2 linked regions of the Homo sapiens genome follow. The protein of the gene in region 2 interacts with the protein of the main gene of each other region in a pairwise test. Each region holds a gene or a part of one and is shown on either strand. Other genes may lie near its edges. The genes, in order: ITGAM and DKK4.

Evidence for each region.
Region 1: the proteins of DKK4 (region 2) and ITGAM interact in binary tests that used the Homo sapiens proteins (3 or more experiments, as listed by UniProt).

What each region holds. Positions count from the first base shown.
Region 1 is NC_000016.10:31,259,961-31,271,360, reverse strand, and holds the start of ITGAM (integrin alpha-M isoform 2 precursor), read right to left. Parts: upstream 11,387-11,400; 5' UTR 11,297-11,386; coding exon 11,269-11,296; intron 9,670-11,268; coding exon 9,564-9,669; intron 5,967-9,563; coding exon 5,863-5,966; intron 5,580-5,862; coding exon of another isoform or gene 5,551-5,579; coding exon 5,480-5,550; intron 5,332-5,479; coding exon 5,214-5,331; intron 408-5,213; coding exon 277-407; intron 1-276.
Region 2 is NC_000008.11:42,372,026-42,384,199, forward strand, and holds DKK4 (dickkopf-related protein 4 precursor), read right to left. Parts: upstream 5,205-12,174; 5' UTR 5,021-5,204; coding exon 4,910-5,020; intron 3,806-4,909; coding exon 3,655-3,805; intron 2,889-3,654; coding exon 2,736-2,888; intron 2,335-2,735; coding exon 2,075-2,334; 3' UTR 2,038-2,074; downstream 1-2,037. UniProt on the Homo sapiens protein: Antagonizes canonical Wnt signaling by inhibiting LRP5/6 interaction with Wnt and by forming a ternary complex with the transmembrane protein KREMEN that promotes internalization of LRP5/6.

The sequences.
Region 1 (11,400 bases), on a different chromosome or scaffold from region 2:
GAAATAAAAATGAAAATAGAACTCAGCCAGCAATGACACGTGGGCTTCATCTCCCATGCCAACCTTAACAATTAGAGCTGCCCGCTTTATAAAAGGCTGAAAGAATGCTGAGGCTGCATCCAACAGAGCAGAAAAGAGACTCAGGAAGGCAAACCATAATCGATCGTCAATTTGGCAATGTCTGCAGTTGAACTGGGAGGAGAACATGGTGGCCCGGTTGCCATGTATCTTCCAGCCCCGTGTGGGCTCTTCCCTAACCTACCCCTGGGCCCTCACCAAGGTTTTGGACTTTTTTAATTGCTCCATCACAGTTGAGACAAACTCCTTCATCCGCCGAAAGTCATGTGGGATGATGCTACCAGAGCCATCAATCAAGAAGGCAATGTCACTATCCTCTTGAGGACACCCTGGGGAAGGGGAAAAGAGTATGAATCAAGTAATTTGACACTTGGTGTTTTGGGTTTTTTTGCATGTCAGCCCTCTGCTGAACAATGAGAATATAGGACCCCGTCTCTATAAAAAATATAGATGTTAAATATATATATAAATTATGTATAATATATATATAATTTTTAACGTGTGTGTATATATATATATGTATACACACGTTAAAAACATATATATATATATATATATATATATATATATATATATATATATACACACACACACGTTAAAAATTAGTCAGGCATGTTGGCACATGCCTGTAGTCCCAGCTACTCAGGAGGCTGAGGGTGGGGGATCACTTCAGCCCAAAAGGTTGAGGCTTCAGTGAGCTATGATCACGCCATTGCACTCCAGCCTGGGCCACAGAGAAAGACCCTGTCTCTTAAAAATAAATAAATAAGTAAATAAACAAGGACAAAGTGGTATGGAAAATTTTCGTTAATTCTGCCCAAGGGAATCAGGGAATGTGGTGATGTTTGACTGAATCTTGAAGAACAGGAAATAATTTGCCCAGCTGGGCGAGGTGGCTCACACCTGTAATCCCAGCACTTTGGGAGGCTGAGGCAGGTGGATCACTTGAGATCAGGAGTTTGAGACCAGCCTGGCTGACATGGTGAAACCCTATCTCTATTAAAAATACAAAAAGTAGCTGAGATCGCACCACTGCACTCCAGCCTGGGTCACAGAGCAAGACTTCGAAGAAAAGGAAGAAAGGAAGAAAAAAAGGAAAGGAAAGGAAAGGAAAGGAAAGGAAAGGAAAGGAAAGGAAAGGAAAGCAAAGGAGGAAGGAAGGAAGGAAGGAAGGAAGGATTTGCCAGATATACAAAAGGAGTAGATTCTAGAAAAGGGAAGGGCACACACATATAAAGTGATGTGGAATGTGCTCCTCTGCCTTCTGCCCCATCCCCAAATCCACTTTCTACCCATTGCCGCTCAGCTCTGTGGCCTGGGAGGTCAACCTGCAGGGACCCCATCACCAGGACTCTGTTGCCCTCTGGATTCCCATTGGATTTGGCAGATGAGGGGGCTCAACAGAAGACTAGAGGGAGGAGGGCAGTGAGGTCCGGGTGTTCTCCCATTGAGGTTGTTTGGGGACAGCTATGTCCTTCACAAAAGACCAACTGTTCCTCAGAAGGAAGCCAGCTCCACATGACTCTCTCCAGACCCTGGTGAGCTCTCCCTCTCCTCAACCCATAAACCCAGGGGTGGCAACAGACCTGCTTGCCCAGGGCTTGGAAAGTCCCTGATGGCTCCCTTAGGCCTGTCACAGCTTTATAATTACTCCCTTTATAAATAAACCCCCCTCTTTGTAAATAAATCTTACTGAAACCGCCTTTGCAAAATTATGACTGAGACAGTGAAAGAGATCTAACTTAACTGATTCCATCTTGCTTCTAACCTCCAAGCTGTCCGTGTTCATTCCTGGGTGTAGGCTGAGCTAACTTTGGGAGACACTTAGTTTATAGTTTATAGTTTATAGTTTAAACAAAGATCGTAACAGCCCTTTCCCAAAGCAGACCTCCTTCTTACCTGGGGACTAGATTGCCTTTGTAGGACTAACGTTAGCCACAAGATGAGAAATTATGATTTAGGAGTCATGCAGCTGGAGGCTACAAGATTCTGACCCTCCCTAAACTGCTCCTAAAATCAGTGCTTGAGATATTTTGCAGACCTTGCACTTGATGGATCAGCTGGCACTGCCCAGATCAATAAACTGGTTCATCCGATCTTGCTGCCCCCACCCAGGAACCAACTGAACGCAAGAAGACAGCTCCGACTCCCGATGATTTCATCCCTGATCAATCAGCACTCCCAGCTCACTGGCTTCCCCCGCGACCTACCAAGTTATCCTCAAAAACTCTGCCCCCAAATGCTCGAGGAGACTGATTCGAGTGATAATAAAACTCTGGTCCCCTGCATAGCTGGCTCTGTGTGAATTATTCTTTCTCTATCGCAATTCTGCTGTCTTGATGAATCGGCTCTGTCTAGGCAGCAAGCAAGGTGAACCCCTTGGGCAGTTACATTACTGGAATGTGCTTTTGGTCCCAGTTGAGACTCCTACTGATATATGGGACAAGGGCCTCAAAAGGATTCTGGCAGAATCCAGGAATGCCGTTTGATGGAAACAGCACTACAGGGACAAACGTATGTGACGGCGATGGAGACACAGCGGTGGCATCAAGCAAAGAGCAGCGGGCAAGGGCCTTTCTACTCCAATAAGGAGCTCGACTTTATCTGTAGGCAATGGGGAGCCACAGAAGGTTCTTAGAAAAGGAAGTGAGATGATTTGTTTTGTATTTTAGAAAGACTGGCAGGGCACAGTGGCTCATGCCTGTAACCCCAGCACTTTGGGAGGCCTCCTGAATAGCTAAGACCACAGGCACACGCCACCATGCCTGGCTAATTGCATTTTTTGTAGAGATGGGGTCTCATTATGTTGTCTAGGCTGGTCCCAAACTCCTGGCCTCAAACAATCCTCCTGCCTTGACCTCCCAAAGTGCTGGAATTACAGGTGTGAGCTACCGCACCCTTTCGAATTTTGAACCAAGTGTATGTATTATATATTTTTTAATAAATGAAAACTTTTTTAAAGAAGTAGTCTTGAACCCTGAGAGTGAGGTCTAAAGAGGGAGAGGTAGAAGTGTTAGCTGAAGCCACAGAACTGGGTGATTTCAGGAAAGAAGAACACGTGGGTGAAAAGAGAACCCAGAACCCAGTGCCCCTAGGTGGAGAGGGAAGCTGGAGGCCAGCCGGGGGTGAAGAGAATGCACTCAGGAAGCTTGGGTGGTGAGGGTGAGGAGAGATGGCAGGAGATGAGGAGGAGACTGGAAGAGAGAAGATTGTTTTCATGGCTATCGATTGTGGTGGTTGATTGCTTTTCAGATACAGATAGAATGAAGAGTGTTTACAGCCAGAGGAAGGGGGAAGTTAATTGTCCTAGAGAGAAAACAAGTGATTCAAGAGATGCTGGGCCAGGCGCAGTGGCTCACACCTGTGATCCCAGCACTGTGGGAGGCTGAGGTGGGAAGATCTCTTGAGCCCAGGAATTCGAGACCAGCCTGGGCAACAAGGTGAAACCCCATCTCTACAAAAAATACAAAAATCAGTATATGCGCACCTGTGATCCCAGCTACTCTGGAGGCGGAGGCACAAGAATTTCTTGAGCACAGGAGGCAGAGGCTGCAGTGAGCCGAGATTGTGCCACTGCACTCCAGCTTAGGTGACAGAGCAAGACCCTGTCTCCAAAAAAAAAAGAAAAAAGAAAGATAGGTGATCACCTTAGTTGGTGCATGAGAGACTCTCAAAAGCCCATATGGAAGAATTTAGTCATGGGACAGAGGAGAGACAGGTCTTCCTCTAAAACGAGTGAGTCACTGCCAGGAGTGCTGTCATTATGGAAATTTGAGAAAAAGGAGAAAGTGCGGTGTTACAGCTCCTTTAGAATTTGTCAACAAATTCCAGTGAAGACTGGAAAACCGCTTATTAAGATAAAATAAGAGAAGGGGAAAGTGGAGGGAGTCCATGCCTGAAGCTTTTGTTTTCTCTGTGGAGGAAGGAGGATTAACTGTGGAGGGTGAAATATAGAGGAACAGGGCTTGAGAAAGAAAAAAAATGCAAGGGAGAAACATTCGCCTGTGGTCCCAGAATCAACATGAAGACAAGCAAAAAGATGGCATAGCCATCGAACAAAGCAGTGGGAAAAAGCAGCTTGAAAGATCCACGCACTCTGGCCAGGCATGGTGGCTCATGCCCCCCACTCATTCCCTGGCTCATTCCCAGCACTTTGGGAAGCCAAGGTGGGCAGATCACCAGAGCTCAGGAGTTCGAGACCAGCCTGGCCAACATGGTGAAACCCCGTCTCTGCTAAAAATACAAAAATTAGCCGGGTGTGGTGGCGGGCACCTGTAATCCCAGCTACTTGGGAAGATGGGGCAGGAGAATCGCTTGAACCTGGGAGGCAGAGGTTGCAGTAAGCCAAGATCGTGCCACTGCACTCCAGCCTGGGTGACAGAGCGAGACTCTGCCTCAAAAAAAAAAAAAAAAAAAAAAATCCATACAGTCACTCAGAATCTCAATCAACAGAGGTTTGGGGAACAGGGGTGTGGAAGGCCGCCCCCCAGGATGGTCCCCAAGATTCCCACCTCTTGCCAATGACACCTTGCACCATCCCCTCCTCTGCAGTGTGACCTGGACTTATTTTTTAAAGACAGGGTCTTGCTCTGTCACCCAGGTTGGAGTACAGTGGTGCAATCATAACTTGCTGCAGCTTCAACTTCCCAGGCTCAAGTGATCCTCCTGAGTAGCTGGGACTGCAGGTGTGTGCCACCACGCCTGGCTAATTTTTTTTTTTTTTTGTAGAGACGGGGATCTCCCTATGTTGCCCAGGCTTGCCTTGAACTTGTGGCCTCAAGCAATCTTCCCACCTTGGCCTCCAAATAGCTAAGACTACAGGTGCTCATCACCACACTCAGCTAATTTTTTTTTTTTTTTTTTTTAGAGACAGGATCTCACTACATTGCCCAGGCTGATCTCAAGCTCCTGGGCTCCCAAAGCTTTGGGATTGCAGGTATGAGCCACTGTGCCTAGCCAAGGCGTTTTCCTAAAGTACAAGACCCTAGCACCTCCCTAGCTTCTGACTCTAATGGGACCCAGTTCCCCCACTCTTCTGCACCCAGAGCCCAGACCTTGAGCAGACGTCACCTCAGTCCTGCCCCCTCCCCTGGTCTTTTGCTGCGCATCTGTTCCCTCTGCCAAAGGCAACCCACCTCGGAGGGCCTCTGGGAACTTCTGGGGCTGCTGCCGTAGGTTGGATCCAAACAGGAAGCAGAGCCCTTTCACATACGTGTTCTCACTGCAAGTCTGGTGCACGGTGGGACCACAGGCCTAGGGGACAGGAGCCAGTGGAAGGGGCTGCCCCTGCTTCCTGTCCTTGTACCCCAGCACCTCCACCCTCCACAAGACCCCCAGCCCCACCATGCGTGGGCCCCCAAACACCCCCATTAGGATGCTCCTCTGATCGAGCCCCACTCACCAGCAGCTGAGGGGGGCTGGTGGTGGCTGCCAGGGACAGGCCCAGGGACATGTTCACGGCCTCCACGGGGACTGCGGGGACAGATATGGGCATGGTCACCCTGGTGGGGGGACAGAGAAGGCTGTGGAAGAGCTGGGCAGGGGTCACCTCCATGCGGGAGACAAGGAGGTCTGACGGTGAAGGGGGATCCTAAATCTTGGGAAAGAAAGGAACACAGAGGGGTTGCCTGGGGATGTCTAGGGTAGAGACTGCAGGCAGAGGAGAGGGTACGGAGGCAGGCACCTGTGTCCCCACCACAGATCCCCAGGACACAGGAGTGCCTGGAAAGTCCCTATGTGTTCACAGGGGAATCCCAGTCCCAGCCCGGCGGGGCAGTGACTCACCCTGCAGGCGGATGGGCTCGCATGAGCCTGTGCTGTAGTCGCACTGGTAGAGGCTGCCCCTTTGGTTGGCAGCCACTATCTCCTGGGGGGCTCCAACCACCACCCTGTGGGGAGAAGTGGGAACAGAGAAAACTTCGACATGTGGGGAGAGAAGGAGACCACAGAGGAAGTTCTGCCACCCAGAGGACGGTGGGGGCCCATACCCGGATTCCTAAATTCCTATGACTAGGAGGAAGAATTAGCAAAGAAAAAAATGGGAAAATGTTAAGACTCAGAATGAGAAAAGGTCTTCCTAAGAATGACACAAAAACCAGAAGTCATTTAAAAATAGGACCAGGCGCGGTGGCTCATGCTTGTAATCCTAGCACTTTGGGAGGCCAAGGGGGTGGATTGCCTGAGCTCAGGAGTTCAAGATCAGCCTGGGCAACATGGTGAAACCCCGCCTCTACTAAAAATACAAAAAATTAGCCACACGTGGTGGTGCGTACCTGTAATCCCAGCTAAATGGGAGGCTGAGGCAAGAGAATTGCTTGAACCCAGGAGGCAGAGGTTGCAGTGAGCCGAGATAGCACCACTGCACTCCAGCCTGAGAGACAGGGCAAGACTCTGTCCCAAAAAATAAATGAATAAATTTTAAAAATAAAAATAGGTCAATTCAAGCTGGGCACCATGGCTCATGCCTTTAATCCCAGCACCTTGGGAGGTTGAGGCAGGAGCATCATTTGAGGCCAGGAGTTTGAAACTAGCCCGGGTAACATAGCCAGACCCCATCTCTACAAAAAATGTTTTTAAAAATTAGCCAGGTATGGTGGTACACACCTGTAGTCCCAGGCCAACCATTTTTTTTTTTTCTTTGAGACAGGGTCTCACCCTGTTGCCCAAGATGGAGTCCAGTGGCATAATCATAGCTCACTGCAACCTCTGCCTCCTGGGCTCAAACAATCCTTCCACCTCAGTCTCCCAAAGTGTTAGAATTACAGGCATGAGCCACTGGACCCGGCCCACACAGTCATTTTATTTATTTTTATTTTTATTTATTTTCTTTCTTTGAAACAGATTCTCACTCCATCACCCAGGCTGGAGTATAGTGGTGCAATCTCGGCTCACTGCTGCAACCTCTGCCTCCCAGGTTCAAGCATTCCTCCTGTCTCAACCTCCTGAGTAGCTGGGATTACAGGTGTGTGCCACCATGCTTGGCTAATTTGTGTATTTTTAGTAGAGATGAGGTTTCCTTATGTTGGCCAGGGTAGTCTCGAACTCCTGGCTTCCAGCGACCAGCCCAGCTCGGCCTCCCAAAATGCTGGGATTACAGGCGTGAGCCCCTGCACCCAGCCTCCACACAGTCATTTTCAATAAATTTCTGGGCCAGGCGCAGTGGCTCACACCTGTAATCCCTGCACTTTGGGAGGCCGAGGCAAGTGGATCACGAGGTCAGGAAATCGAGAACATCCTGGCTAACATGGTGAAACCCCATCTCTACTAAAAATACAAAAAAATTAGCCAGGCGTGGTGGCACGCACCTGTAGTCCCAGCTACTCGGGAGGCTGAGGCAGGAGAATCGCTTGAACCCAGGAGGCAGAGGTTGCAGTGAGCCGAGATCACTCCACTGCACTCCAGCCTGGACGACAAAGCGAGACTCCATCTCAATAAATAAATAAATAAATAAATAAATAAATAAATAAATAAATAAATAAATTTTTGTATGTGATAAACTACCATAAGCATACTCAAAAGAAAAATAATACACAAGGGAGAGAGCTTCACAACTCATACCCCAGACTACTTTCCTCAGTGTACTCAAAGCTTGTACAAACTAGTAAAAAAAAAAAAAAAGAAAGAAAAATGGCCAACAGATAAGAAAAACATGTTCACAGAAAATGCCTCTCTCATAAAAAAAAAAGAAGCAATTTAAAGCTAAATTAAGATACCACTTCTCACCTACTCGATCTGCAGAGATCAGTAAGTTTGATAGCACACTGAGTTGGCAAATGAGTGAGGGAGTATGAGGAAGTAGGTATTTTCATGAATTTCTGGTGTGAGTGTAAATTGCTGCCACCACTGTAGAGGGGGATCTGGAAAAATCTATTAAAATTGCACGTGCTCATGCACCCGTGGATACCACAATCCCAGTCCTAGCCTTTACTTCCAAATAGGCTTGCACATGTGCAAAATGACAGCATTGTTCATAGAGCAAAAGTTTGGGAACAATCTAAATGTTCATTAACAAGAGATCTAATGTAATGTAAAAGGAGATTACAAGCCAGGCACGGTGGCTCAAGCCTGTAATCCCAGCACTTTGGGAGGCCGAGGCAGGTGGATCACCTGAGCTCAGGAGTTCAAGACCAACCTGGCCAACATGGTGAAACCCTGTCTCTACAAAAATACAAAAATTAGCCAGGCGTGGTGGCAGGCACCTGCAATCCAAGCTACTCAGGAGGCTGAGGCAGGAGAATCGATTGAACCCAGGAGGCAGAAGTCGCAGTGAGCCAAGATCATGCCACTGCACTCCAGCCTGGGCGACAGAGGGAGTCTCTAAAAAAATAAAATAAAATAAATTATAGCATCTCCCAATTATGGCATGCAATGCAAGCATAACATGGGATTAATGGACTCAAATCACTGGGCTGTATTATGGGAGATAAAGCAAAGAGCAGAGACCAGCCCCCTTCTTCTGGAAAGGTACTATCACCTCCACAATTACTGTTTCTGTAAAGGTAAATGTTTTAGGCTTCAGGGTCCATACAATCTCTATCACAGCTCCTGAATTCTGCCATTACAGCTCAAAAGTGGCCATAGCCAGGCACAGTGGTTTACACCTATCATCCCAGCAAGTTGGGAGGCCCAAGCAAGAGGATGACTTGAGGCCAGGAGTTTGAGACCAGATTGGGCAACAGAGTGAGACCTCGTCTATACAAAAAAAATCAAAAAATTAGCCAGGTGTGGTGGCACATGCCTGTAGTCCCAGCTACTCAGGAGGCTAAGGTGGGAGGATTGCTTGAGCCCAGGAGTTTGAGTCTACAGTGAGCTATGATTTCACCTGTGCACTCCAGGCTGAATGACAGAACAAGACCATGTCAGAAAGGAAAGAAAGAAATGAAGGAAGGAAGGAAGGAAGGAAGGAAGGAAGGAAGGAAGGAAGGAAGGAAGGAAGGAAGGAAGGATGGAAGGGAGGGAAGGGAGGGAAGGAGGGAAAGAGGGAAGCAGGGAATGAGAGAGGGAGGAAGGAAGGAAGGAAAGAAGGAAGGAAGGAAGGAAGGGAGGAAGGGAGGGAAGGGCAATAAACAGTAAGAGACAAGTGGACGGAGTTGTTTTCAATAAAATTCATTCACAAAAATAGGCGGCAGCCTGCAGGCAGGCCTTAATTTCAGTACAATGTATACTACACATGGTGTGTTGGCTGAGGGAGGGAACGTGTATGTGTTATGCACACACAGAGTCTCCCCGAAGGAACACCCAGGAAACCATTTGTGAGGTCCCTCCTGGGAAGGGAACTAGGGGAAGGGAGTAAGGAAGAGATTTTTACTCTTACACCCTTTTGCATCTTTTGAATTTAGAATACTGTAAATTCAAAAGATGAATTTGTTGTATATTTTGAATTGATTTATCTGTTGAAAAAGATCACTCAAATCGCTGATTTTTTTCAGGTATGTAAGTCTTGGAGAGAAAGCACTGAGAAAGGGGGCTCCATCTAAGGGTCTCACCTGGATCCCTGAAGCTGGACCACGCTCTGCCCGAAGCCCCTTGCGTTCTCTTGGAAGGTCATTGCGTTTTCAGTGTCCAAGTTGAACCCATGACATAAGGTCAAGGCTAAAGGGAGAATGGGGGAAGGATCAAGCAGAGGAAAGTAGCATGCCAGTTAGGGGCTGTAGTCCTAGCACTTTGGAGGGCTGAGGCAGGAGGATCACTTGAGCCCTGATTGTGCCACTGCACTCCAGCCTGAGCAACAGAGAGAGATCCTATCTCAAAATTAAATACAAAAAAAAAACAAAAACTAATAATAATTTAAAAGAAAGCAATGGCTGGGTGTGGTGGCTCAGGCCTGTTATCCCAATAATTTAAGAGGCTGACGTGGGAGGATCACCTGGGCTCAGGAGTTTAAGACCAGCCTAGGCAACACAGTGAGACCCCATCTCTACAAAAAATAAAAAATTAGCCGGGTGTAGTGGTACTCAGGAGGCTGAGGTGGGAGGATTGCTTGAACCCAGGAGGTCAAGGCTGCAGTGAACCATGATCATGCCACTGCACTACAGCCTGGGCAACAGAGAAAGACCCTGTATCAAAAAAAAAAAAAAAAAAAAAAGATAGCAGCATGTCTTCCTGCTCCATTCCCTTTCCCATCCATTCGGTCACCCTAACTAACCCAGCATCCAGATGTCTGCCTCCCAGGTCCAGCTCTGTTAGCCTGGGGCGGGGATTAGCACACTTATTCTGTAAACAGCCAGATAGTAAATTTTAGGTTTTGCAGACCAAGAGGCTGATAGAATATGTTGTACAAGTACTTATATAACAAGACAGAAAATACTTTTCCACAAATTTGTCATTAGGGAAATTTCAAACATAATGATTGAGTACAATTTGTTTGTAATACGGGTTTACAAATGAGACAAATAGAATTCTTTGGGGGTGGTGCTCCCTATCATCAAATCGATTATCAGTGTTCATCTTCAATCTCTAGCTGGCAGGTTGTGCAAAAACAGGTCGTGGGCCATATCGGGCCCCCAGGCCACTGTTTGCTGACTCCTGACCTAAGAACCACCGTCGTGGGGCACGTCCAGTCCTGCTCTGAATTCCAGCCTCCCTTCTGAGCACCTAAATGGCTTCTTCCCCCGGTGTCACAACGATGATTTGCCCAACAGTGAAGTTTCTATACATTCTTAATTAGATAATTTCCTTCCTATGCAGCTCTCAAGTATTTCCTTCCCTTTTGAGGAGAATTTCATTTTCCACAACATATAAGCATAAAAGGTAACAAACTCAAATCATTTTCATTCATCAGTCATTCAACAAACATTTGCACCCGGGACCTTGGAAAATAGAACCGGAGGCAAAGTGGAGATGGTGAGAGGGGATCCAGGAGGAAGCACTCAGGAAAGGGGTCTCACACCTGCTGCGCACCCTGAGCCATGTCACTTCTCCTCCCTGGGCCTCCGTCTCCTCATGTGTGAAGCAAGGGGACCGGCAAGCAGCCTTGCACAGTCCATGAATGTGGTCATTCATCCAGGCTTCCCTGGCCAGCCTGTCTGGGTCTAGCTGTTCTCCCTGCTTCTTCTTGAACCCTTTCTCCTTCCCCAAATCCCCTTTGCCTCTCCCCAGACTGACTCCTACATATTCTGGGCCCTCTATTTATGACAGACCCAAAAGTTACCCTCCTCCCCACCCAGAGTCCCCCACCCCACCCCCATGCACCTGTTAACAGAAGGACTCTGAGAGCCATGGCTGGAAGGAGCCAGAACCTGGAAGGAGGTGAACCAGGGGTTGCAGGCACCACTGAGGAACCACAAGGAAGCCACCAAAGCAAAGAAGGGCAGAAAAGGAGAA
Region 2 (12,174 bases):
ACTAGCCTCTGGAAGACTGTTCAATATTTTCTAGAAACTGGGGGGGGGCGGGGCACGGTGGTTCATGTCTGTAATCCCAGTACTTTGGGAGGCTGGGGCAGGTGGGTCGCCTGAGGTCAGCGGTTGGAGACCAGCCTGGCCAACATGGTGAAACCCTGTCTCTACCAAAAATACAAAAATTAGCTGAGGGTGGTGGCATATGCCTGTAATCCCAGCTACTTAGGAGGCTGAGGTGGGAAAATTGCTTGAACCCGGGAGGCGGAGGTTGCAGTGAGGCAAGATCACACCAGTGTACTCTAGTCTGGGCGACAGAGTGAGACTCCATCTCAAAAAAATAAACTAGGGACCTTCATAAATTTAGTTTTTTGTTGGGCCCATATTTGATTGTGTCAGTCCATTCTTGCATTGCTCTAAAAGAATACTGGAGACTGGGTAGTTTATGAAGGAAAAAGGTTTAATTGGCTCATGGTTCTGCTGACTGTATAGGAAGCATGGCACTGGCATCTGCTAAGCTTCTTGGGAGGCCTCAGGAAGGTTTTACTCATGCTGGGAGATGAAGTGGGAGCAGGCACTTCACATGGTGAAAGCAGGAGCGAGAGAGAGAGAGGAGGTGCCACACTTTTAAACAACCAGATCTTGTGTCAACTAACAGAACTCACTCATCACCAAGGGGATGGTGCTGAGCCATTCAGGAGGAATCCGCCCCCATGGTCCAGTCACCTCCCACCAGGCCCCACCTCCAATACTGGAGGTCACATTTCAAGCATGAGATACGGAGGGGATAAACGTCCAAACCATATCATTGAATCTTGTAATATAAACTTATAACCTGAATAGAAAAACAGGTGTATGATTTATCTCTTAAATCTGTAGCACTTGCTTGAAATCCACTAGAAAGAGCTCCCCTAAGCACAACCACTTCTATGCACAAAATACAGCCCTTTTAAACTTCAAACAAACAAAAATTTCACTTTTTTGCCCGAGTTCTCCTCTGGGCTTTTAAGCACAAGTGGTCAAAATGTGTAAGTAAAAACACTCCTTGAAAGCCCTGCCTTTCAAATATTAAAATTATATAAATATAAAATATACAAAGTTATCAAATGGTAAGTAAAGCTACTGAAAACGTGAAAATGCTTTATAACTTGCAAAGGACTATACAAACATAAGATATCTTGAAACTTCTTTATTAACCAAATTATTTTGTAGTGAAATGCCATTTCCCTTCTAAGAAATGAATGGAAATAAACAATAGAGTTATTAAGGAAAAATATAGTATTTGCTGTGATAATTTTCCTGGTAAGATGTAAGAATTAATTTACTTTTAACTTCAGATGCTATCATTTTTTACCCCCTAGGATACTGTCAGGCACCAACCCTTCACCAGAAATTGTTTAAAGATTTATTTGGAGAGAGAGATGTGGCTCGGTTATAGTATATGTATTTCAAAACTCACACAGTACACTTTAAATATATACAATTTCAATTCTTTGTTGTTGTTGTTGTTGTTGTTGTTGTTGTTGTTTTGAGACCGAGTCTCGTACTGTCACCCGGGCTGGAGTGCAATGGTGCGATCTTGGCTCATTGCAACCTCCGCCTCCCGGGTTCAAGCAATTCTTCTGCCTCAGCCTCCCGAGTAGCTGGGATTACAGACATCTGCCACCATGCCCAGCTAATTTTTTGTATTTTTTAGTAGAGACAGGGTTTTACAGTGTTGGCCAGTCTGGTCTCAAACTCTTGACCTCGTGATCCACCCACCTCTGCCTCCCAAAGTGCTGGGATTACAGGCGTGAGCCACCATGCCTGGCTTCAATTCTTAAAGATTTGAATTAATTGAGTCCCTAGATTAGAAATAATTTTTTTGGTTACAGAGTCCCATCAGTTTTCTGGAAAAACGGACAAAAGGCTAAAGCTAGTTTCATTCATCACAAGGTCGCCATCTCTTAGTTCTCTAGTTTCAGGCTATTTCACTTGCTACAAGATTTGATTTTAAGAGAGATCTGTATGGAAGCATTTTAAAGTTAATGTCCAAGATTGAGCTCAAATGCAATGTGGATTCTTCTTTATTTTGAAATATTTATAGCTTTTCTATTTTTTGGCATACTCTTAATCGAGCATGCTGCCGATTGCTGGTCAATTGGCTTCGACACAGTAGTCCAGGGCCACAGTCGCAACGCTGGAAGATTTCTGGAGCTTGAGCAGTGTCTTTATGCCCTCTTCTGGAGCAGACCTGTCCCTCCAAAAGGACTGGCTTACAAATTTTCGTCCAAAAATGACGAGCACAGCAAAGTCCAGGGCCACAGTCAAAAGTTCTCAGACAACTTTCTCCCTCTTGTCCTGTAACAAGGTTAATGTGGGCTTTAGTGATAAATAAGGAAAGTGGCCTGCTGGGGGTTTGCTACTGGGATAAGGGAATGGGACCTATGACTGACAGCCACAAAGTAAAAACAGACACAGCACGCAGGTCTCACAGAGCTAGGTGTTACGCTAAAAGCAGTAATGCCATGGCGACTCCACCCCTACCCATCAGAATTGATCGTTGTTACTGGCTGCAGACTACCTTAGGCTACTCTCTACGTGACCCCCACAGCTTCTTACAGAAAGAGATAACAAACAGCACATGCTTCCTAAGTGTTTCTGGGATGGAGAAGAATAAAATCAGTCTCACCCTATCCTTAAGAGGCTGGGAGGAGAAAATGCATTTCTGAAATAAAATATGCTGCGAATGCTGTTCTTACCCTTCCTGCCTTGTGATTTCTTAATACTTGGCTTCCTTTTGGGTTGGTTTTCCTGGACTGGGTGCCCAGTTGTTCCTTCTGCATGTGTGCCATCTTGCTCATCAAGCTGCCTTTCTAATATTGGGGTTGCATCTTCCATCGTAGTACAAACATCTGAGGGACAACCAGGTGTAACTAGAATTATTAACTTCAAGGGGGAGAACCACAGACACACTAATTATCCTACTGTTGCATAGTTTGGCAGCACCTCTGCCTTCAGTTTATATATAACTTTCTAGATTTCTGGAACATGTGCTAAATATTTACATGCTCGCATGTGGCAGAGAAAGTAGCTAAGTGGAAATTGCATTCCATTAAAGGTAGTTAATGGTATCCAAGTGGAAATGGAAGTATTTGAATGATTACAACTTGAGTCTTTCCTTTAAAATCATTATCTCCAAGTCATTGGCAAGAGCTGTTGCCAGGAAATAAATTATTTTGTTTCATTAAGAAAAGGCAAGCCGGGTCCGGTGGCTTACGCTTGTAATCCCAGCACTTTGGGAGGCCGAGGTAGGTGGATCACCTGAGGTCAGAAGTTCGAGACTAGCCTGACCAACATGGTGAAACCCTATCTCTACTAAAAATAACAAAAATTAGCCGGGCATGGTGGTACATGCCTGTAGTCCTAGTTACTCCAGAGGCTGAGGCAGGAGAACCACCTGAACCCGGAGGCCGAGGCTGCAGTGAGCTGTGGACAACAAGGGCGAAACTCCGCCTCAGAAAAAAAAAAAAAAGGAAAAGAAAAGGCAGCTGCATACATTTACTTCAAGCATGAATCTAGGAAGCACCATTAGAGAGTGCCTACCCTGGAATATTCTAGTCTATGGGGCTTAGACACTACCTTCGGTTTAAAAACCACTGTTGGCGTTATGTCGCTCACCGTTCACACAGAGTGTCCCAGGGCAGCACATGGCATCTCGCTGGCACCTCCTCCGCAACCCACGACATGTAGCACAGAACGGCTTCTCATCGCGGGGCTGGAGGCAGAACTTTCTGGTATTGCAGTCCGTGTCAGACAGGCACTGTGAGCCCTGTGGAGGGAATCTGTTATCACAAGGCTAGGAAACCCCCAACACGATGGAAGATGACTTATTATTGAAGGCAGGAGGCGGAGGGAGCCAAAGGACAGTGGCGCTGTGACAAACCCTGGGCAGCATCTTACTCTCCAGTGGAAATGGTTTTCTCCCACAAAGGGAAGCTCATGTCACCCGGGGAGACCTAGGCGCTGCAAAGGCTATTTGAGTTTGAAAAATTGACTTAACTCAGAATTTAGTTTTCCTGTGCTCTTTGTGAAAATGGGAAAAAATGTTTTCCTATGTGTGTCTTAACAGGTGAGTATGAGATTTTCAATATATCTTAACTCTAGAAGCTGGCTACAGTTTCATTAAACATACTATTGATGTTTGTGGCATTCCTATTTGATTTTTTACTCTAGTGAATCACATTTAGCTTAGAGACCCTTCCCTAAGTGAACTGTCCTTTGATTTTCAATGATGCCTCATTGACATAGAGAAAGAGATACCGAAGATCAATTGTTCTCATACACAGTTGATGCTTCTACATAGACATACAACGTAGGTGTAGCATATATGATATATGTAATAATCTATACGATATATAATAACATATACACATACATAAAGCGATTCCTAAAACAACTCTCTCTGTGAAGTTAGATGGTGACAAGGCAATGCATCATGGCCCTCTGTTTAAATTCTCATTCCCATGTTTGCTTGCTGGCTGTGTGAGCTTGGGTAAGCTCTTCAACATCTCTGAGTCTTATTTCCTCATCTGGAATTAGGGAATGTTTCACCTATCTCAAATTGTGAGGAAGAGTACATGACGTATTACATGTAAAAGAGCTGGCACATAGTAGAGCTTCCAAAGTGTTCGTTTATTTCGTGATTTATAGACAAACGTATGGCCGAATGATGTGAAAAGCCACTGTGTTTATTTCATACATTCACACTAAGGCCACTGATCCTACCAGGATGCCCTCCCAAATCCGAAACCAATTCAATTTACCTGCTAGGTAAGACATTTCATACATGAATCAGAATGACTTACTAAAGCCTAAACAAAACACCCCAGCTGTCAGCAGTCCCGTACCTCGCCCCCCTCCCTAGCAGCCTTACCTTCCGGGCCCCATGCAGGTCAGCAGAGCTCCTGATGTTGTTGAAGTCCAGGACCAGAGCTCCCAGGGGAGAGCAGAGCCAGCTCAGCCCCAGCAGGACGGCCGCCACCATCCTTCAATCCCGGGGCTCCTGGAGGGTCCCAGCACTGTGCGTCACCAAAGCGAGGCTGCTCTCCACCCAGAGCAGAGCTTCCACTAAGCTGGCAGCTCAGCACGTCGTCTGTTTGTCACTGCTTTTTCTGAAAGAAGTAAACCTTAGTCTGAGTAAGGTGCGTGAAATCGGCTGAGCAAAGTCTGACCAGCAGGTTCCTCCTGAAACTATTTATAACCAGATGTGCCTCCTCCCCGCTCCGTTCCTTCCTCCTGCCCCACACAGGCTTCAACAAATCCCTTCAAATCTGTTTGATCAATAGTTCAAAACAAGGACTCAATAGAAGGAGAGAAGAGGCAGGGCCATGCGGCTTCTCCTCCAGGGGTTCAATCCCTCTTAATTATTGCATATCAAAGTTAGTTCAAAGGGCCACGGCAGAGCAGGATGTCTGTATCAAAGGCAAACTCTGATAATCACCTGCATTTCCTACCTTCAGTAATCCTTTGGGGGTAGGGAGGGAGTCTGCCCTAAGATCTGTTTTCACAGCTAATTGTGCTCAAAGAAAGGATGAATCATACTGGCCAATATGCTATAGAGGATGCCAAAAACTAATGAGGTACAAAATACACTGAGAAGCTGTAAACTGGGCTTCAGATAGTGAGGACAGATAGAAAAAGAGAAAACGCCCCCTGATTAGCTCTGGCATCCAGATGTCAAAATCCCAACCGCTTAAAAGTTGTGAACGTAACAGCACCTGTTCTGACTAAATGCCATTTGGGAAATTACTTTCCTTTAAATGAAAATTGAACTGTTTGAAGTTAGGGTTATTAGGAAAATAATGTAATTTATGAAAATCCCATTTTTCAATGGTGGGAACAATGATAGCGCATTTTACACAATTCAGTACGAAGCTTTGGGTCCATTTTATCAGCAACATATTTAATTTGTGTTGCATTATGTAAAACTCACTTAAGCAGAACAAGGATCCAAGTCTCTGGCTGATTTCAGATGAAATTTCATGTATTTCCAATTTTCCTAATACGAATTTTTTAAAACTTCTGCTTCATCCCTTTCCTGTCTGATTTTTTTCCATTTGGACTATTAGTCAGGTAATTTAGACATGTGCTTATCACTGTCTTAAATACTTTAAGGGTAGAACAATCTAGATCTGGATCAAAAAATCATTTTTTCTCTTCATTGTTTCATTGCTCTTAGCATAGAGTCATCTAAAATGCATTTTTTCTATGCCATAAATGATAATCTTATTATTTACTACATTTTCCTGCAGAACAACCTAACATCAATTCATTGACATGAATCTCAGCATTCTGTGCATGGGAACATTCTCAATTTTGAGTAATGCAGTGCCATTCCGAGGGTGATGCAGGTGATTCGAGCCTTCCTACTACTTGGCCCTTGTCCTTGGGTTGGTATTGCTTGTCTACCTCTCGTATGGAAGTTACTTGTTTTAATCCCTTAAACTGACATCAAACAACACCCTTTGATAGCATGATAACCCTGGTGACTAGGGGTGTTACAGAATTTATTTTCAAGTTGTACAATTATGACCAAGGATAAAGGAAAGAGCCCCCAGGGTTCTGTCTCTGCCGGGTTTCTCTGCTTCCTGCTGCCTCACTGTAAGGGAATTTCAGGTTACCAAAGGCCCCTGGCAATATACACAGGCGAAAGAACTGACGGGAACTCCTGTAACACGGCACAAACAGCCACTGAGCACTTAGAGCACTTGGCATGGAACAGAGCCTCGGATTACATGTTAGGAATAAAATTTGAAACTCCAATGGCCGGGCACAGTGGCTCACACCTGTAATCCCAGCACTTTGGGAGGCCAAGGTGGGAAGATCTCCTGAGCTCAGGAGTTCAAGACGAGCCTGGGCAACATATTGAGATCCTGTCTCCACAAAAAAAAAAAAAAAAAAAAAAGTAGGCCGCGTGCGGTGGCTGACGCCTGTAATCTCACCACTTTGGGAGGCTGAGGTGGATGGATCACCTGAGGTCAGGAGTTCGAGACCAGCCTGGCCAATATGGTGAAACCCTGTCTCTACTAAAAATATAAAAACTAGTCGGGCGTGGTGGTGGTCACCTGTAATCCCAGCTACTCGGGAGGCTGAGGCAGGAGAATTGTTTGAACCTAGGAGACCGAGGTTGCAGTGAGCCAACACGGTGCCACTGCACTCCAGCCTCGGCAACAGAGTGAGACTCCATCTCAAAAAAAAAAAAAATTAGCCAGTCATAGTGGTGTTCACCTGTAGTTTCAGCAACTCAGGAAGCTGAGGTGGGAGAATCATTTAAGCCCAGGAGATTAAGCCTATATATATATATATATATATATATATAGAGAGAGAGAGAGAGAGAGAGAGAGAGAGAGAGAGAGAGAGAGAGAGAAAGATTCAGACAGAAAACTTGTATGTATGGATGACAGAGCCTGGGTGACACAGAGAGAGAGAGAGATCCAGATAGAAGACATGTACATATGGATGATTTCAATGTATTATGACAAGCACTAAAATAAAGGTATAAATATAAGGGTGGAGGACTTATGAAGATATAAATACAGACGAAGGCATGATTTAGACTTTCTAGAGAAATAAAGGAATGTGTTTACAGATGAGGTAATATTTGAGCTGAATTTTGTTGGTTGCATAGGGGCTTCCTAAGTTGGGAAGTCGGAGATATCCTCACCTGGGCTCAGAGGGTGAGGTGTGTGCAAGAGGGAGGAGGTGCACTCAGGTGCTAGTGAGAGATTGTGTGGCTGCGGCAGATGATGGAAGGATGAGATGAAGCAAGATGCAGACCCTGATATGCCATGCTAAGAAAATCAGATTCTATTCTCTGCACAATGTAAAGTCATTGGAGATATATCAGACTGAGAATGCCATGATCCGCTGGGTGCAGTGGCTCATGCTTGTACCCAGCACTTCGTGAGGAGGATAAAGCAAGAGGACCACTTGAGGCCAGGGAGCAGCCTGAACAACATAGCAAGACCCTGTCTCCACAAAAAATAAAAAACCTGGGCATGCCAGCACTTGCCTGTAGTCTCTGTTACTTGGGAAGGTGAGATGGGAGGATCACTTGAAGCCAGGAGTTCAAGAGCAGCCTGGGCAACATAACAAGAACCCATCTCTACGAAAAATACAAAAATTACCCTGGTGTGGTGGCACGTGTCTGCAGTCCTAGCTATTCAGGAGGCTGAGGCAAGAGGATTGCTTGAGCCTAGGAGGTCAAGGCTGCATGATCCTATCCCTGCACTCAAGCCTGGGTGACAGAGCGAGACCCTGTCCTCCCACCAACAAGAAGGAAGGGAGGGAGGGAGGGAAAGAGAGAAAGAGAGACAGAGAAAGAAAGAAAGGAAGGAAGGAAAAAAGAAAGAAAAGAAAGAAGGGAAAGAAGAAGAGAGAGAGGAAGGAAGGAAGGGAGGGAAGGAGAGAGGGAGGGAGGGGGAGAGAGAGAGAGAAAGGAAGGAAGAAAAGAAAAGAAAAAAGAGAGGAAGGAAGGGTGAAAGGAAGGAAGGAAGAAAAAATGAAAGGAAGACAAACGAAAGGAAGGAAGGAGAGAGAAGGGAAGGAGAAAGAAAAAGAGAAAGAAAGAAAGAGGAAAGAAAGTGAGAGAAAGGAAGGAAGAAAGGAAGAAAGAGAAAGAAAAGAAAAGAAAAGAAAAAAGGGAGGGAGGAAGGGAGGAAAAAAGGAAGGAAGGAGAGAGTGGAAAGAGAGAGAGAGAGAGAGAAAGAGGAAGAATGTGAGAGAAAGGAAGAAAGAAAAAGAAAAGGAAGGAAGGAAGGAAGGAAGGAAGGGAGGAAAAAATAAATGAAAAAAGGAAGGAGAGAGAAAGGAAGGAGAAAGAAAGAGAGAGAAAGAGAAAGAAAATGAGAGAAAGAAAGAAAAAGAAAGAAGGAAAGAACGAACAAACGAAAGAAAGAGAAAGAAAAAGAAAGACACTGGTGTGATCTAATTTGCTTTCAGGGCACAATGCTGGTGGCAGTATGGTGCTTAGGTTGCACTGGGAGAGAGGGGAGGTTGGGGGCCACTTAGGACTCAGTTGTCATTGCCCCGATGACAATGAAGAGGTCCAATTTGAGGCAGTGACACAGTGACAATGGGAACCAAGCAAAGGATGGGAGTCTGAAGTTCGAGCTGCATCACTGGATGTGGGAGTGGGGAGGGAGGGGAGGAGGAGCTGGGATGATCCTGCCTTCTCTGATTTGGTGCACTGGGTGGGTAGAGGTGGGCCTAGAGACAGAGAATTCAGGATGAAAATCAGGTTGGGGGAGCAGGATAAGAGGGTGCCTTGAGAAAAGCTGTCCGCACAATCAACTGTTTGCAGGATATCTACTGTGGAGATATAAGAGTAGCCATTGTGTCTTCCACGAACCAGGCTCTCCGTTTTGCCTCTGAGAGACAGAGAGGAGTGGGTGCAAGCACCAGATGCCAGAGGATCACCAACAGGGGGTGAACAACACTGAAGAGCGACCCTGTGCCTGTCTGTGTCTGTCCATCTCTGTCTCTGTCTCAGCACTGACAGAATGTGGGCTTTGGGGCCGGGCCTGACTCTATTACCAGCTGGGCCTCCTCTCCCCTGTCTGCCCTGATCTGTGCATACGCCAGCCTGTCACAGCGCTTCTAAAACCCCACTGCAATTGCCTACTTCTTTGTCTCTACAACTAGACCATGAGCTCGAGCCAGGCGCGGTGGCTCACGCCTGTAATCCAAGCACTTTGGGAGGCTGAGGAGGGTGGATCACTTGAGATCAGGAGTTCAAGACCAACCTGGCCAACATGGTGAAACTCCATCTCTACTAAAATACAAAAATTAGCTGGGCATGATGGCACACACCTGTAATCCCAGTTACTTGGGAGGCTGAGGCAGGAGAATTGCTTGAGCCCAGGAGGCAGAGGTTGCAGTGAGCCAAGACTACACTACTGCACTCCAGCCTGGGCGACAGAGCAAGACTCCATCTAAAAAACAAAAACAAAAACACGACAAAAAAACCTCTAAACAAATGCCTCTCATCCATTTTCCAGGCCAGAACTTTCCATCTTCCATAGACTTTAGTGCCTTAGCAGGCTGTCAATGGACATGTGTTCGATACAACTCATCAAAGAAAAACCTCCCTTAATCTGAGGCCTCATTTTGCAATAAGACTAGGGTTACGGTCTCTAAAAAGCCAGAGCAATTTTGGAGGAAAGTAGGTATGTGAAGTAGTTTTGGGAACATGACATTTGGTATATTTTCAGATTTCCCAAGGCTGCTTGCCTGCACAGTGTCCCTCAGCGAGAATGCCAACAACTGAAATGAGATGCCCCCCTGTGGCAGCGTCTACTGCCAGGAGCCCGCATCTCCATGATTTGGGGACTAGAGATGATGGGGCAGTGGGGAGAGGATGCACGGTGAAGCAGGTGTGGAGAGGAAAACTTAAAAAATGTTTCTGCTTAAAGGGCATCCTCTTTGCTCTTAGGTCAGACCACAAGTTTCACGACACAGGCCACAGCAGCAATGACCTCACAGAATTCACTCCACAAGGCCTCCTGAGCGGCACCTGGAGCCGTGGCTGTCTTTTGAAAAGTGGCACCACAAGACACTCCTTTAGCCACAGAACAAAGGAAGCCGTCGTGCGAAGTTCTGGCCAAGGTGCTGCCATACTGATGCCCCCTGGCAAGGATTATGGGTTAACTGGAAAATTTCAGGCTGATGCTTCAAGTTTTGCAGTGAGCGCCTAGCTCATGGGAACACTAAAATCGAGTAATACTGACTAAGCTTAGAGGAAATGAAATTTCTCAAAAAAAAATTTCCAGAGGTCCCAGTTTCTGCACTGATTCCACTCTTTGGGTAAAAATTGCAGACTCGTGTTTGAGACCTGCCACCTGTGTCCTCCCGCGTGACAGCTGCTGTGGTTCACGTCAAAGGCTGGGTGTCAGAACCGATTATTTATACTCACTCGGGAATGGAAATTTTTATTTGTTATGCCTCCTGTGTCAAAACCAGTTTGATTTCCATAAGTTTTGCTTTCCTTAAAACAAAATCAAAGTAACGGAAGCAAGCAGGTCTTTGGCAGAATCTCACAGGAAATATTCCATCAAATAAAAGATGAGAAGGGGCATGTTGATGGGGCGGGCAGACAAACCGCAGGATGTGATCACAGAGATGACAGAAATGTTGCCATTTGGTTCCCTGAGGTCAGAAGGTAAGGCCAGCCCTCCACAAGGCTGGGGAGTGAAGGGCAGCACCCAGGGACAGCACAGGGGGGATGCCAGGGTGGCTGGTGCCAGCCACTTTTGCAGACGGTATAGCCTCTGGCAGGTCATGTCACACTCAGCCTCAGTTCCTTCTGGTCTTGAGGGCCTTTTACACACCAGTGTTCTGGGAGATTGGGCTGGCATCTGCCATGGCCTCCAAGTTGCTCAGCTCCAGGAGGCACCTTTGGACCATGTTCCATGCACGTGGCCCACGCCTTTGGAGCTGTGCAATGTGCTGGTGCAGGGAACCTCCCTTTCCAGCAGCAACAGCCTTGGAGTTGTCCTGACTCCACAACAGGCATCTGGCTGGGAATAGCACCAGGGTCCCTGGACCCTCCTTCCTCAAAGATAGGCTCTGCCATTGTTTTGTTTTAAAATAAAATCAGGTTGGCCGGGCACGGTGGCTCACACCTGTAATCCCAGCACTTTGCAAGTCCGAGGCAGGCAGATCACTGGAGGTCAGGAGCTCGAGACCAGACTGGCCAACATGGCGAAACCCCGTCTCTACTAAAAATACAAAAATTTGCCAGGCATGGTGGTGCGCGCCTGTAATCCCCGCTACTCAGGAGGGTGAGGCAGAAGAATCACTTGAACCTGGGAGGCAGAGGTTGCCGTGAGCCAAGATCATGCCACTGCACTCCAGCCTGGGGAACAGAGCAAGACTCTGTCTCAAAAAAGAAAAAACAATCAAGTTGTGTCCATTTGTGCCTTCCTAGGTCCTAAGGGCCACACCCCCCGCACCCCCCTACCCTGTTCCTGGGCACTATCCCGCTTTCCTTCCTGTGTGCCACGCTGCGGCTGACATGTTCATGGGACACAAAACATGGTGGGGGGAGGTCTGCCATCTTTGGATCTGAGTCCTAAGATGCAGACCAAACTGGGTCTCATTCTTCAATTCTTTATTTTTAGGGACAGGGTCTCATTTTGT